Regions from separate parts of the Homo sapiens genome. Here all the other regions are linked to region 2. Evidence: fine-mapped expression QTL. A gene starts in region 2. Each other region holds a variant in brackets. All regions are shown on one strand. Distances are between the middles of the regions. Region 1 overlaps FBXW7 (F-box and WD repeat domain containing 7). Region 2 holds the start of FBXW7 (F-box and WD repeat domain containing 7). Region 3 overlaps FBXW7 (F-box and WD repeat domain containing 7).

Region 1 (4,356 bases), 68 kb before region 2:
TAAATAGGTCACCAAAATCCTCTTAATTACCACATTTGATATAAACAATTGGAGGTAGCTCTCAATTATGTCTTTTCCTTACTGTCATCACAATTGAAAATTTAACAACATCATTAATAAGTTTTTCATTTCCTTTTCCATTGCTAAATTTCCATGAATACTATAACATAAACCATAAGAATATCAATGTATAGAACAATATTACCCATCTGGCCAGGCGCGGTGGCTCATGCCTGCAATCCCAGCACTTTGGGAGGCCAAAGTGGGTGGATACCTGAGGTCAGGAGTTAGAGACCAGCCTGTCCAACATGGTGAGACCCCATCTCTACTAAAAATACAAAAATTAGCCGGGCATGATGGCATGCGCCTATAATCCCAGCTACTCAGGAGGCTGACACAGGAGAATCGCTTGAACCCAGGAGGCAGAGGTTGCAGTGAGCCAAGATCATGCCACTGCACTCCAGCCTGGGCGACAGAGTGAGACTCTTTCTCAAAAAAAAAAAAAAAAAAGAGAACAATATTACCCATCTAATAGCCACTCAAGTGACTGTTAGCCAATGAACACCATGATTTTAAATCAACTAACAAGAATATCAGTGATCCTAGCACTATAAAATCTCATCAAAATAGGCCGTTATTTGAAGTTGACAAAGAATACTGTCAAATAACATGAAAGGTAAGAATAGTCAATTCCCCTAATAAAAACACATCTAGCGCATTTATATTACAACCTCAACCTTACACAGAAAGCTAATGCTTTGAAGACAAGTGACATTCCACTGTTACACACCATTTCTCCAGAAACTAAACTAGACAACATTATAGGTCAAAATACATGAAATACACCTTCAACTGATCACATAACGTCACATAACGATAAAAAATAAGGAACTAAATTGGTACCTTAAAAATTAAAGACACTGGCTGGGCGCAGTGGCTCAAGCCTGTAATCCCAGCACTTTGGGAGGCAGAGGCAGGTGGTCACCTGAGGTCAGGAGTTTGAGACCAGCCTGACCAACATGGTGAAACCCCGTCTCTTCTAAAAATACAAAAATTAGTCAGGTTTGGTGGCACATGCCTGTAATCGCAGCTACTCGGGAGGCTCAGGCATGAGAATCACTTGAACCCGGGAGGCAGAGGTTGCAGTGAGCCAAGATTGTGCCACTGCCCTCCAGCCTGGGCAACAGAGCGAGACTCCATTTCAAAAAAAAAAAAAAATTAAAGACATTTACTTAATAGAGGAAAAACTTACATATTCCATACATAAGTTTACAAAAACACCAAAATATCATTGCTTAAAAATAATCTGGGTTGGGCGTGGTGGCTCACACCTGTAATCCCAGCACTTTGGGAGGCCGAGGTGGGCGGATCACGAGGTCAGGAGATCGAGACCATCCTGGCTAACATGGTGACATGCCATCTCTACTAAAAATACAAAAAATTAGCCAGGCGCGGTGGCGGGCACCTGTAGTCCCAGCTACTCGGGAGGCTGAGGCAGGAGAATGGCGTGAACCCAGGAGGCAGAGCTGGCAGTGAGCTGAGATCGCGCCACTGCACTCTGGCCTGAGCGAAAGAGCGAGATTCCGTCTCAAAATAATAATAATAATAATCTGTACAAGATTAAAATCAGTGAGATTATCAAAATCTATTCCTTCTTCACAAGAAAGATAAGAACCTGATAATCCTTAGTCTAAAAAGCAATGGTTTCTTAAACTATGAAATAAAATATGCAGTAATTGTCATAATAAACTATTGATATGGTTTGGCTGTGTCCAAACCCAAATCTCATCTTGAATTGCAGTTCTCACAATCCCCAAGTGTTGTGGTGGGACCCAGTGCAAGGTAATCGAATCATGGGGATGATGACCTCCATGCTGTTCTCATAATAGTGACTGAGTTCCCACAAGATCTGATGGTTTTATAAGGGGCTTTTCCCCCGATTCACTCTGCACTTCTCCTTGCTGTCACCATGTGTTTGGTTCCTCTTCTGCCACAACTGTAAGATTCCTGAGGCCTCTCCAGCCCTGAGGAACTGTGAGTCAATTAAGCCTCTTTCCTTTATAAACTACCCAGTCTTGGGTATATGTCTTTATCAGCAGCGTGAGAACGGACTAATAACATCTATTAAGGATGGCCCCTCCCTTCTTCAATCCAAAAAAAACTAAACATAAATTCACAAGACTAATATCAATAAACATATCACACACAGCTAATATTTTCACAGTAACACATGGGATCAAAACGTAAGGTTTTGCTTAAAACAATTAGCTGAGGAACTGAAGCACAAATACAAGGATAATTGCCTCCTTTGGGCTTTGACTGTCAAACACAAGAAATGCCAATGCTTTTTCGTAGTCCTATGAC[G/A]ATTAAAACTTTGTCATAGACCCAGGCTATCAGTGAGTATTTATTTAAAAACAAATCTGCAATATAACACCAAAAGAACAAGCAACAAAAAACAGATCAGCTGAACTTCAAAATTAAAACTTTTCTGCTTCAAAGGACACCATCATAAAAGTAAAGAGATAATCCATAGGAGAAAATATTTGCAAATCATGTATGTGATAAGGGACTAGTTTCCAGAATATATAAAGAATGTTTACAATATTCAACATTAAAAAGATAATCTTTTTTTTTTTAATGGGCAAAGGAGTTGAACAGATATTTCTCCAAAGAAGATATATGGTCAATAAGCATGTGAAATGATGCTTATCATTAGTCATTATCCAAATCAAAATCACAATGGGATACAACTTCATACCTACTAGAATGGCTGAAATACAAAAGACTGACAATAAGTGTTTATGAGGTCGTGGAGAAATTACAATCCTCATACATTGTTGGTGGTATTGTAAAATGGTACAGCCATTTTGAGAGTTCCTCAAAGAGTTACACACAGGTACTATATTATCGAGCAATCCCACCCCATCCATATATACTCAAAAACGTATCTACACAAAACTTATATAAGAATGTTCACAGAAAAGCGCTCCTAATAGCCAAAAAAAGAAGTGGATACAACTCATTAACTGATGAATACACAAATGATATACAAAGAAATATTCAGCCACAAAAATGAATGAAACACTGATACATGCTACAACATGAGTGAAGCTTTAAATATCATGCTAAATTAAAGAAGCCAGACACAAAAGGACAAATATTTTATGATTCTGTTTTTATAAAATGCCCAGAATAGGCAAACCTATACAAACAGAAAGTGTATTAGTGGTTGCCTAGGGCTGGGTGATAGAGGGCGTCCAGAAGAAGGATGATGAAAGTAACCTAAGATTACAAAGTACTGGTAGTTGCATAACTTGGTGAATATATTAAAATATCACTGAATTGTACACTTAGAGATGAAATCTCCTGGTATATAAATTTCATCTCAATAAAACTGTCACTAAAATTAATAAATTTGCTAAGATGAAATATACATGATAAGCATATAACACAAAGACGACTGCTTCCCTCTAACTCAAATATACGCATCAATAGGGAAAAAAATGACAATAAGTTACTCTTTTGTACTTAATACAACTCCAGAAATCAGTTACCACCTTCTAAAGTAGTAAAAATCTGTTTAAGAGATCTCTGTGGCATCATTTGCTCCTAAAAGTATTTATATTTATTACAAATTTACAGTAAACAGAACAGTATAACTGTTGAACATTTAGGCACCTACTGTAGTTACTATAAAATTTAAGAAAAATAATTTGGTCAAATATTTGCTGTTTCAAACACATTAAAAAGTATAATAAAAGAAGCCAATGCTTATCACTAAATATTTCCTCCTTAATAATCTGCTATTGACTATATTAAAAACAACCAAAAGCCTATACTATGACACCTCATTATGCAATGTCTCAGCACTTCTTTCCCATTCTGAAGCATATTTAATAACTTTAAAATCTATTATGATTAACCAAATCATTTTATATCTATATAATCACCATAGTACACAGGTATAAAATACTATGTAGTTGAAGTAAAATACATTCTGAGATTGACTCACCTACCTTTACTCAAAAATAAAAAAGTAAAAGCTTTATCTATGAAATCATAAGTTTATGAAATTCTTAACTACAGACACCTACAAAATTTTTCATATTTTAAGCTTGGAACAAAGAATAATCTAAACAGGAAATGCATAGACCCTGACCACAGTATTTGGTTCATGTTGGCATGTTGCAGCAAACAGGACCTAAATACAAGGAGGAGTCAAGCAATGGATGGCTAAAGAACAAATCTGTATTAGTGTTTTCACAAAAAAGAAATACTACAAAATCTCAAGTAGGGGAAATCCTGTTTTATTCATAAAGTATTAGCATTCCTGCTCACTAAAACCATTTCTTTCCT
Region 2 (4,000 bases):
CTATGTCTTCTTACATAAAATTCTGCTCTATGTTTAACCCTTAAGGTCTGTATATGAAATATTAATTACTTTCATAAACCTTTAATTTGGTACTCTGACAAGATACCTAAAATACAAGTCAAAGGTTTTATAAACTTCAGCTTTAAAATAATGGAAGGAAAAAATCATTCCTGACTTAAATATCAAAGATGTATCCTAAATTGATACAGAAATAAAGATAATTCAAAAAAGCAAAGCCTCAAACCAAATAAAAAAGTGCTGTAATTTGTTACTCTAAAAAAAAAAAGGGGGGGGTGAAAGGGAAAAAATCACAACTTTTATAAAATGATTAATGTGATAAATGCTCTTCCCCAAGTAAGTTGTGATTCCTAACAACTCAAGTTCCTGAGTAACTGACATCTGTTACAGTGTCCTCCTGACACACATGAAATTGGACCCAGTAACTGAGAAGGTTAACTCCTGTACCAATAGGTACTGAAATGAACCTCTCTCAAAACAGGTTTGTTGTTGTTTTTTAAAAAAGGAATTTTACTTTCAGGGGTCCACAGGTTAAGTAGTTCTCATTCGGGAACCTATATGAGAGTACCCCCGAAACAAAAAGTACACCGCACACACCCACAGTACCAGGAAAAGGTTACAGATACAGATGGCCTCTGTGCGCACATATGCTCTGGCTTCCTCAATTTCCCTTTGCCAACTGCTGGCCAGAAAGGTGCGAGTATTCACTTTGGAGAAAAGACTCCTCCGACAGAAACCTGCATACTTGCATTACTCGTACAAAGAGCTAAAAAGTTACAAAATACAGGCCTCCCTAACACCTTCCCCCCTCCGTGAATAAAGCTAGACTCCCTCATTGATAGACTCCCAACACTACTGGAGAACATCAGCAAAACTCCAGGAGGAAGCGCCGGCATCCTCCCACTTTCTCCCCCTCAATTCCCTCTCCCGGGGCCACTCACACTTTTAGAAAAGAGCCGCGGCGCCGAGAAAGTGGGTTGGTTCCCTTCCTCCTTCGGACTGAAGCGGCAGCTGCGGAAGGCTCCGGCGCGGTACTGAGGAAGAAGCGGTGCTCGTGTCGCTAAACCAGGCGGCAACCCGGGTCTCTTCCGCGCTGCCAGGGGAGGGGAGGCGGCGGCCCCGCTTACCTCCTCTTTTCCTCTTCCTGGGTCTTTTCAGGCTGCGGCTTCTGCCCGTCCAGGGCCACTTCTCCCGGGACAGTCAGGTTTGGGAGACTCCGGATTTTGTTTTTGTAAAGTTTCCTCTGGGTGGAGGCTGCGGCCGGCCCCCCGGGTCCCCCCCGGCCCCGCCGCCCTCGGGACTGGGGCGGGGGAGGGGGGCTCTAGGAACTCCTCCCGGAGTCCAGCCAAGGAGCCGGGGGGCCGGCGACTGGCCAAGGGAGAAGACCCCCGGAGGGGGCTGAGGGGAGGGGGAAGGTGAGGAAAGGACGGCGGCGTCGGTCCTGTTCTCTCCGCCGCCCCAGCCGCCGCTTCACATCGGGGTCCCCGCCCCCCCGGCCGGGGGGTGGTTGCCGAGCTTGGTTGGGGCCCCGGTTCATACACTCCGGGGCAAGATGCTACGGCCCCGGGCGGGTGGCCGAGTCGGCGGCAAGGCGAGGGACCCGGCCGGCTCCGCTCGGCGCCGCCCCCGCTCCCGGCTCCCGCATGTGTCGCTGCGGCTGGGACCCCCCTCCCTACACCTTGGGGGTCTCGCCCCACGCCCCACGGGACGAGGCAGAAGCTCTGGCGCCTCCTCAGCGTTCTCTCACCGCGGAGCAGCTACCCACTCCCGGCCCGTGGTAGCCGCCTCCCTGCCCCCCAAGCCGCCGGCTCCGGCTCAGGCTCGGGCTCCGGCTCTGGCTCCGGCTCCGGCGTGTGCAGCCGCCGCTGCCGGCCGGGAAGGTGAGGGGGGGAAAGGAGTGCGGCCGCGGCTCCCGCTGGCCCAGGTGAGAGCGAAGGTCTCGGCGGCGGCCAGTGCAGGGGGACTGGATCTCTCGGATGCTCCTTCGCTCTCAGTCTCAGCGGCGGCGGCGGCGGCAGCGGCAGCGGCAGCGCCCGGAGCTCAGCTCGCTGTCTCCCTCGCTCTGTGCGGGGCTCTCGCCTCACTCCAGAGAGAGGGGCGGGAGGAGAGCGGCGCCTGCCGATGACGCAAGTCACCTAGCAACCGCTCTCTTCCCCCTCCCTCTTCTTTCCGCTCTGAGGCTTCCTCCGCTGGCCTTTTTCCCCCTTCCAGCCACCCCGCCCTGGGCGCCTCTGGCGCGCTCTGATGACGCTCCAAGGGAAGAGGAAGTGGGGATCGGCGAGCGGGTGGGTGCGCCTCGGGCCGCGGGACTCGCAGCCGCCACCGCCGCTGCCGCCTCTACGGCCGCGTCAGAACTGAAGAGAGGAAGGGGAGGAGCCGAGTCGAGCCTAAGCTGCCGCCCGATCTTACCCCTGACCCGAGGGCGGCCTGGAGAGCTTGGTCTGTAGCGGTTTCCTTCGGGGCAGGTGGGGACTGCTCCTTTGGGAGGAAGGAGGAGGCCCAGGCCGCGTCTTCAGGCAGCTGCGCGCACCACCCGAAGGTGAGGCATTTGGCCCCAAACAGACCCTCGAAAAGCCGGACTGATCGAGGAGTTACCCTACAGCCTGATCTGCACCTGCTCCAGGGAGAGAGCGCCCCACCCTTCCCGTGGCGTGGGGTGAGACCCAGCGTTGGATAACGTGTGGTCGGGCCGAGCAAATGTTTGATGAATGAATGAATGAATGAATGCCTCTCTCACGTGGCACTCGTGAAGCTCAGAGGATATGGTGGAAGTGCAAGCGCTTTGTAAACTGCAGTGCATTGTAAAAATGAGTTGTAATACATTCCTCCCCTCCCCCTAGCCATGAAAGGAAACAGGGGTGCGGCTTGAGTACAGAGTCACAACCTGAGTCTTTAGTGGAAAAGGAGACGAAATGCCGAGCAAGGGAAGGGACCCATCCTCGCGCAGATTGTTAGGGCGGCGGGAAGGGAGGATTGGAAGGGAGCCATCCTCTGGGAGATTGCTGAAGGATTTTTGACTGTCAGGGGAAGAATTTAATAGTCCCTCACTTTTACGAATGGTTCTTTCTTACGGTTTGGAGCTTTCGAGAGCTTCTGGTCTTGGTTCATCAGTGTACGTTGTCATCAAGAAATGTTGGCCTGTTTCAGGTCTGACTCAAAGGTTATTTTCTTTCTAAAATAAGTGTTATTACTATTATGCAGCTTTTCCTACAGATGTTATCCTGGAAAGGAAAGTTAAGTAGAAACTCATGAAGTTTAAAGTGTAGTTCTCTAGGAAAACAAATTTAAGATAAAAGGACCAGAATCCTCAGAAATCTGTCTTCAGTGAATAGTATGAGAAAAAGATTAAAGCAGCAGCAATGATGAAAGCAGATTCCACAATTCTGTCCCTGGACCCTAGTACACTCTACCTCCTTGGGAAGCAGTAGTAATGGATTTTACAAGTCTTTCCACCTGGAGGAGGGGGTAAGGTAGGAGCAAGTGTATTATAGACAAATGTGGGAAGCTCTGGGTTTCTCCCACTACTGCCACTACCATCTGCAAACAGTAAACTAAGGAAACTTTTAACTGGGTAAATCCAAGGGCTCGTGTTCATTAAAATGCTGCGGGAAAGGTGGTGAGAGGGGCAAAGGAGGATGTGGCAAAACCAAGGAGAGACTCACAGACTAGCACCTGACCCTACTGCCCTTGACCTGAAGTTCCAAGAGCCAGGTTAAATATCCTGCTTAAATTACCCTGGATTTTTCTGTCTTTACGTGACCAATCCCCTGCTACAGCCTTCCAAATAAGACTCACAGGTAATCAGACCAACAAGTGATGGTCTCACATGGCTACAAAATAAATATTTTTTGTTTTTCCCCCTCTTCCTATCTTACAACAGGGGAATGGTGGAAATTAAAGGAGTAAAACACACAGATTTAGGGGATTTTGTGAAGCTAAACACCTCAGAGAGTTTAACCTTTGTAGGCTTTGAAGGAAAAGA
Region 3 (4,176 bases), 180 kb before region 2:
CACAAGCAATGGAACCAGAAAAACCTGGATTTAAGCGCAAGTTTTGCCATTACCAGAGTGTAATGTTAGGTGGTTACTTGACCTTTACGAGTTTGTTTTCTCTTTTTATAAAACAGTAATGATATACACCTACCTTACCACCTAAACTACAGAGTCACTGTGAGGAAACAGAAAATGCCTAGCACATAACAGATACCCTAGAAATGGTAGCTGTATTTAACAGGTGGGAAAAGTAGGTACAGAATTAAGTGTCTTGCCCATGCTTAAATAGCTAGCTATATTTAGAACCTTGGTCTCTGGTCCCAAGATCAATAATTCTTACTGATTTCCATTAGATATGTGGTAGCTCAAGTTAAGCTAAAACACGAGACATTGTTAAAGAAGAAAAAAGTGTTATATTTTGCAAAAAGTATGTATGTAAATTACAAGTAAATCTTGATTATTCAGTTTATTGAATCGTTATTTTAGGTCCATATTAACTATGCTTCTACTACATCTGGGAAATCTGAGGCAAAGGCCTGGTGATGGGGGAAAGGTGACAGAAACTGAGAAAATTTTAGGTTAAAAAAACAATCAATTGAGAAATAAGTCACCTCCTATGTCCCAATATCTGCGAAATGCTACCAAGGGCAAACAAAAACATTGCAATTACCTTCCTCCCACAAGATACTTAAAATCCAGGTGACAAGATAAGAAATGAGGCTGGGTGTGGTGGCTCACACCCATAATCCCAGAGCTTTGGGAGGCCGAGGCAGGAGGATCATTTGAGGCTACGAGTTCAAGACCAGCCTGGGCAATATAGCAAGACCCCATTTCTATAAATAATGAAAAAAAATTACCTGGGCATGGTAGTGTGCACCTGTAGCCCTAGCTACTTGAGAGGCTGGGGCAGGAGGATCGTTTGAGGTTGCAGTTAGCTATGATCACAGCACTCTACTCCAGCCTGGGTGATAAGGCAAGACTCTGTCTCAAAAACAAACAAACAAAAACTACCAAAAACAAAACAAAACAAAACAAAACAACAACAAAAACCACGAAGACAGGTGAGGCAAGAGAATCACTTGAACCCGGAAGGCAGAGGTTGCAGTGAGCTGAGATCGTGCCGTTGCACTCCAGCCTGGGCAAAAAGAGCAAAACTCAGTCTCAAAAAACAAAAAAAACCCACAAAGACAAGAAACAAATAGAAAGCAATACTGGACTATATATCAATTGCCAAATTGGGTGGAGTGAGTCAGAAAATGGAGAAGTTATTTTAATAGTCTGGGAGTTCATAAATGACATGGTCTTGCTTCTGTGTTTAAAAAACAGAAGTTTGATAAGTGTTGAGAGGGAAGAAGGAAATTACCACCTGTGGACCTGAGATGTAAATGGAAATACGACTATTATTAACTTGCAGGATTAACAGCATCTATTAGACTTCTAATCACTGGTCTTACAAGGTTCATTAGGGGATAACCCATGTGATAACAATTATTTCTCCTAACTGAAACATTTAATACTAGAGTTAAAATGTTATTTAACATATTGTTAAATTTCTTCAAAATACCTCCTGTCATGACTCATCATTCCATCTTAGGGCATTATGTGTCTTTCTGTACTAGGAGAACTTTACTGTGTGGGTGTGAAGACTGTTGACTTTTTATTTTAGTTACAAACACTGACAAACAAGGGGACTTTCTGTTTGAACAGGCATTCACACTAGAAATCATACATACAAGCAAGTTGTACTCCTGAATACACAGCGCAGGGAAATGGTGTATAAAACATTCATTGAAATTGTATATTCCCAGAAAAAGTTAATGAAAAAACAATCCGAAAAGTTACTCGGGGCAACAGGTGAGTACACAATTCACCGATTCTTGCCAACATGTGACTGAAAGAACCTGTCCTATTCAAAAAGGTATAGCTCACTAAGAAAATTTTCATCTTGTTCTACCCCAGCCCTTTCTCCCCACACCTCTACTGTCTGGCCCCCAGACTCAAAGCCTCTTTTCTAAAGAACAGACTTCACTATAGAGCATTTTGAAGTCTCAGAAACCGTTCATCAGGTACAGAGCTAGGTGACTATGGAAGGGTGACTGTAAAACTAGAAGGTATGTGAGATTCGATAACACAATATAAGGTACGGTCCTTTTGAAAAAACAAGCATATATTTTATGTGTGTGCGCACTGTGTATGCATAGAGAAAAGCCTAGAAAAATA[T/C]ATTAAAATATATTAAATATATATATATATATAAAATATAGTAAAATGCCAGCCAACATTTGGCTGGCAGATACAGAAAGTCCAGATTCATACTTACTGCACTTTTTAAAATATAGGCATCTCTTCTCATCAAGCATCTTACTAATTTTCCAGAAGAATTCAAAATGACAAGGCATAACTTGAACCAATCTTTTAAAACTCTAGTTATGAATCAAAGTCTGTGAATTCAAACTGATTTCACTAATTCAAAAATATTTATTGAGTACCTATTTTGTTTTGGTGCTAGGCCAGTGAGAAACAAAAATAACACTGGATTCTTGCTCTAGAAAGTGTGCCTCATGGTGATCTTTAATCAATTCTTTGTTTTTATGTAGCTTGCTTGTTCTTTAAGTATTCAAGTGTTTGACATAGCTGTCAAGTGAGTAGGGAAGAACATAGTAATCAGGCCCCCACTACATTTTAAAAAGAGGATTCTATTCATTTTTAAAACATTAATTTAAATTTTAAAGTACTTCCTATATACATATATATACTTTAACAAATTACATTATTTGCTTTAAAAAAAAATCAAGAATTCTATGACTAGCAAATACTTACATGATTCCCTACCTGTTTAGGAGATTCCAAAAGACTCTGAAGGTCAATAAATATTTTCAAGACAACTTAACTTGAAAAGGTATCTGAATGTATATTTGTCTTTTATGTGCAGTGAACTGTAAGACTGATAGTTAGAAGCACTTTGCTATCTTCTCAACATTCTCATAGAAATATTTTATTTACAGATTCACTTTCTTAAAATTTATTTTAGCACATGATTTAAAAAATATTTACCTATAAACACTTGAGACCTCCAAATGTTTGAAAACTAACTTTTGACAGGCATGGTGGCTCACACCTGTAATCCCAGCATTTTGGGAGACCAAGGCTGGTGGATCACTTGAGGTGGAGACCAGCCTGGCCAAGAGTGAAACCCCGACTCTACTAAAAATACAAAAATTAGCCGGGTATGGTGGTGTGCACCTGTAATCCCAGCTACTTGGGAGGCTAAGGCAGGAGAATTGCTTGAACTCGGGAGGTGGAGGGTGCAGTGAGCCGAGATTGCAACACTGCACTCCAGCCTGGGAGACAGAGCTAGACTCCATCTCAAAAAAAAAAAAAAAAAAAAGAACAGAACAGAACAGAAAAAAGAAAAGAAAAAAGAAAGCTTATCACATTTAATACATGATTCTAAAAACTCCTTTATGTGGAATGAATATCATAAGTTTCCCACCAGTTGCATGAAGGCATGGTATGTAATGATGGAATGATGACTATTAAACAAATATGAATTATAACTAAAATTAAGAACTGCTCCTGATATGAACAAGTGCATATAGCTGTGGTCTGTTACGAACTGCTACATGGTAAATTGAGACCACTTTTTAAAGCTAAATCTTAGATTTCTTAAAATCTAAGTTTATGAGTCAATGTATGTTCATAATTATACAATATGAAAAAATCCTATGAGGAATAGTCTAAATCTACCCAAAAGAATATCAATTCAAAGCTAGCAAAAGGATGCTGAACTTTAGTGTAATCTTAAAATTCCAGTATTTTTTAGTTCATGAGATGATAAAGAAGACACACACATATTCCTTTCTTCATTTTAAACCTTTCCTTTAAAGTCATTCCAACAACAGACAACTTAGCATATTAAAAAAGAACTTAGGGCCGGGCGCAGTGGCTCATGCCTGTAATCCCAGCACTTTGGGAGGCTGAGGCAGGTGGATCATAAGGTCACGAGTTCAAGATCAAGTTCACCAGGCCATCACCTGGCCAAGATGGTGAAACCCCGTCTCCACTGAAAATATAAAACAAATTAGCCAGGCATGGTGGTGGGCACCTGTAATCTCAGCTACTTGGGAGGCTGAGGCAGAGAATTGCTCAAACCCGGGAGGCAGAGGATGCAGTGAGCCAAGATTGCACCACTGTACT

The links. PIP is the estimated chance that this variant, and not a neighbour inherited with it, causes the effect.
Region 1: its variant is the best candidate, but not a certain one, in a credible set for the expression of FBXW7 in whole blood (INTERVAL, PIP 0.72).
Region 3: its variant is the best candidate, but not a certain one, in a credible set for the expression of FBXW7 in whole blood (INTERVAL, PIP 0.67).

What each region holds. Positions count from the first base shown.
Region 1 is chr4:152,465,352-152,469,707 of GRCh38, forward strand. The region is part of intron 2 of FBXW7 (F-box and WD repeat domain containing 7); the gene reads right to left. Among named protein-coding and RNA genes, the nearest start is that of MIR3140, 22 kb to the right of the region's middle. The variant G/A (reference allele first, on the strand shown) is at 2,365.
Region 2 is chr4:152,533,982-152,537,981 of GRCh38, forward strand. FBXW7 (F-box and WD repeat domain containing 7) reads right to left here and starts at 2,111. Exons shown (of 14, transcript NM_001349798.2): 1 at 1,146-2,111; 2 at 960-1,052. MIR4453HG (MIR4453 host gene) reads left to right here and starts at 2,283. Exons shown (of 1, transcript NR_033797.2): 1 at 2,283-4,000. It overlaps MIR4453 (microRNA 4453), which reads left to right and starts at 2,447; the gene lies at 2,447-2,535. RefSeq lists enhancers at 457-556, 1,806-2,341, 2,047-2,406 and a silencer at 1,147-1,936.
Region 3 is chr4:152,358,619-152,362,794 of GRCh38, forward strand. All of the region lies in intron 4 of FBXW7 (F-box and WD repeat domain containing 7), which reads right to left. Among named protein-coding and RNA genes, the nearest start is that of FBXW7-AS1, 23 kb to the left of the region's middle. The variant T/C (reference allele first, on the strand shown) is at 2,203.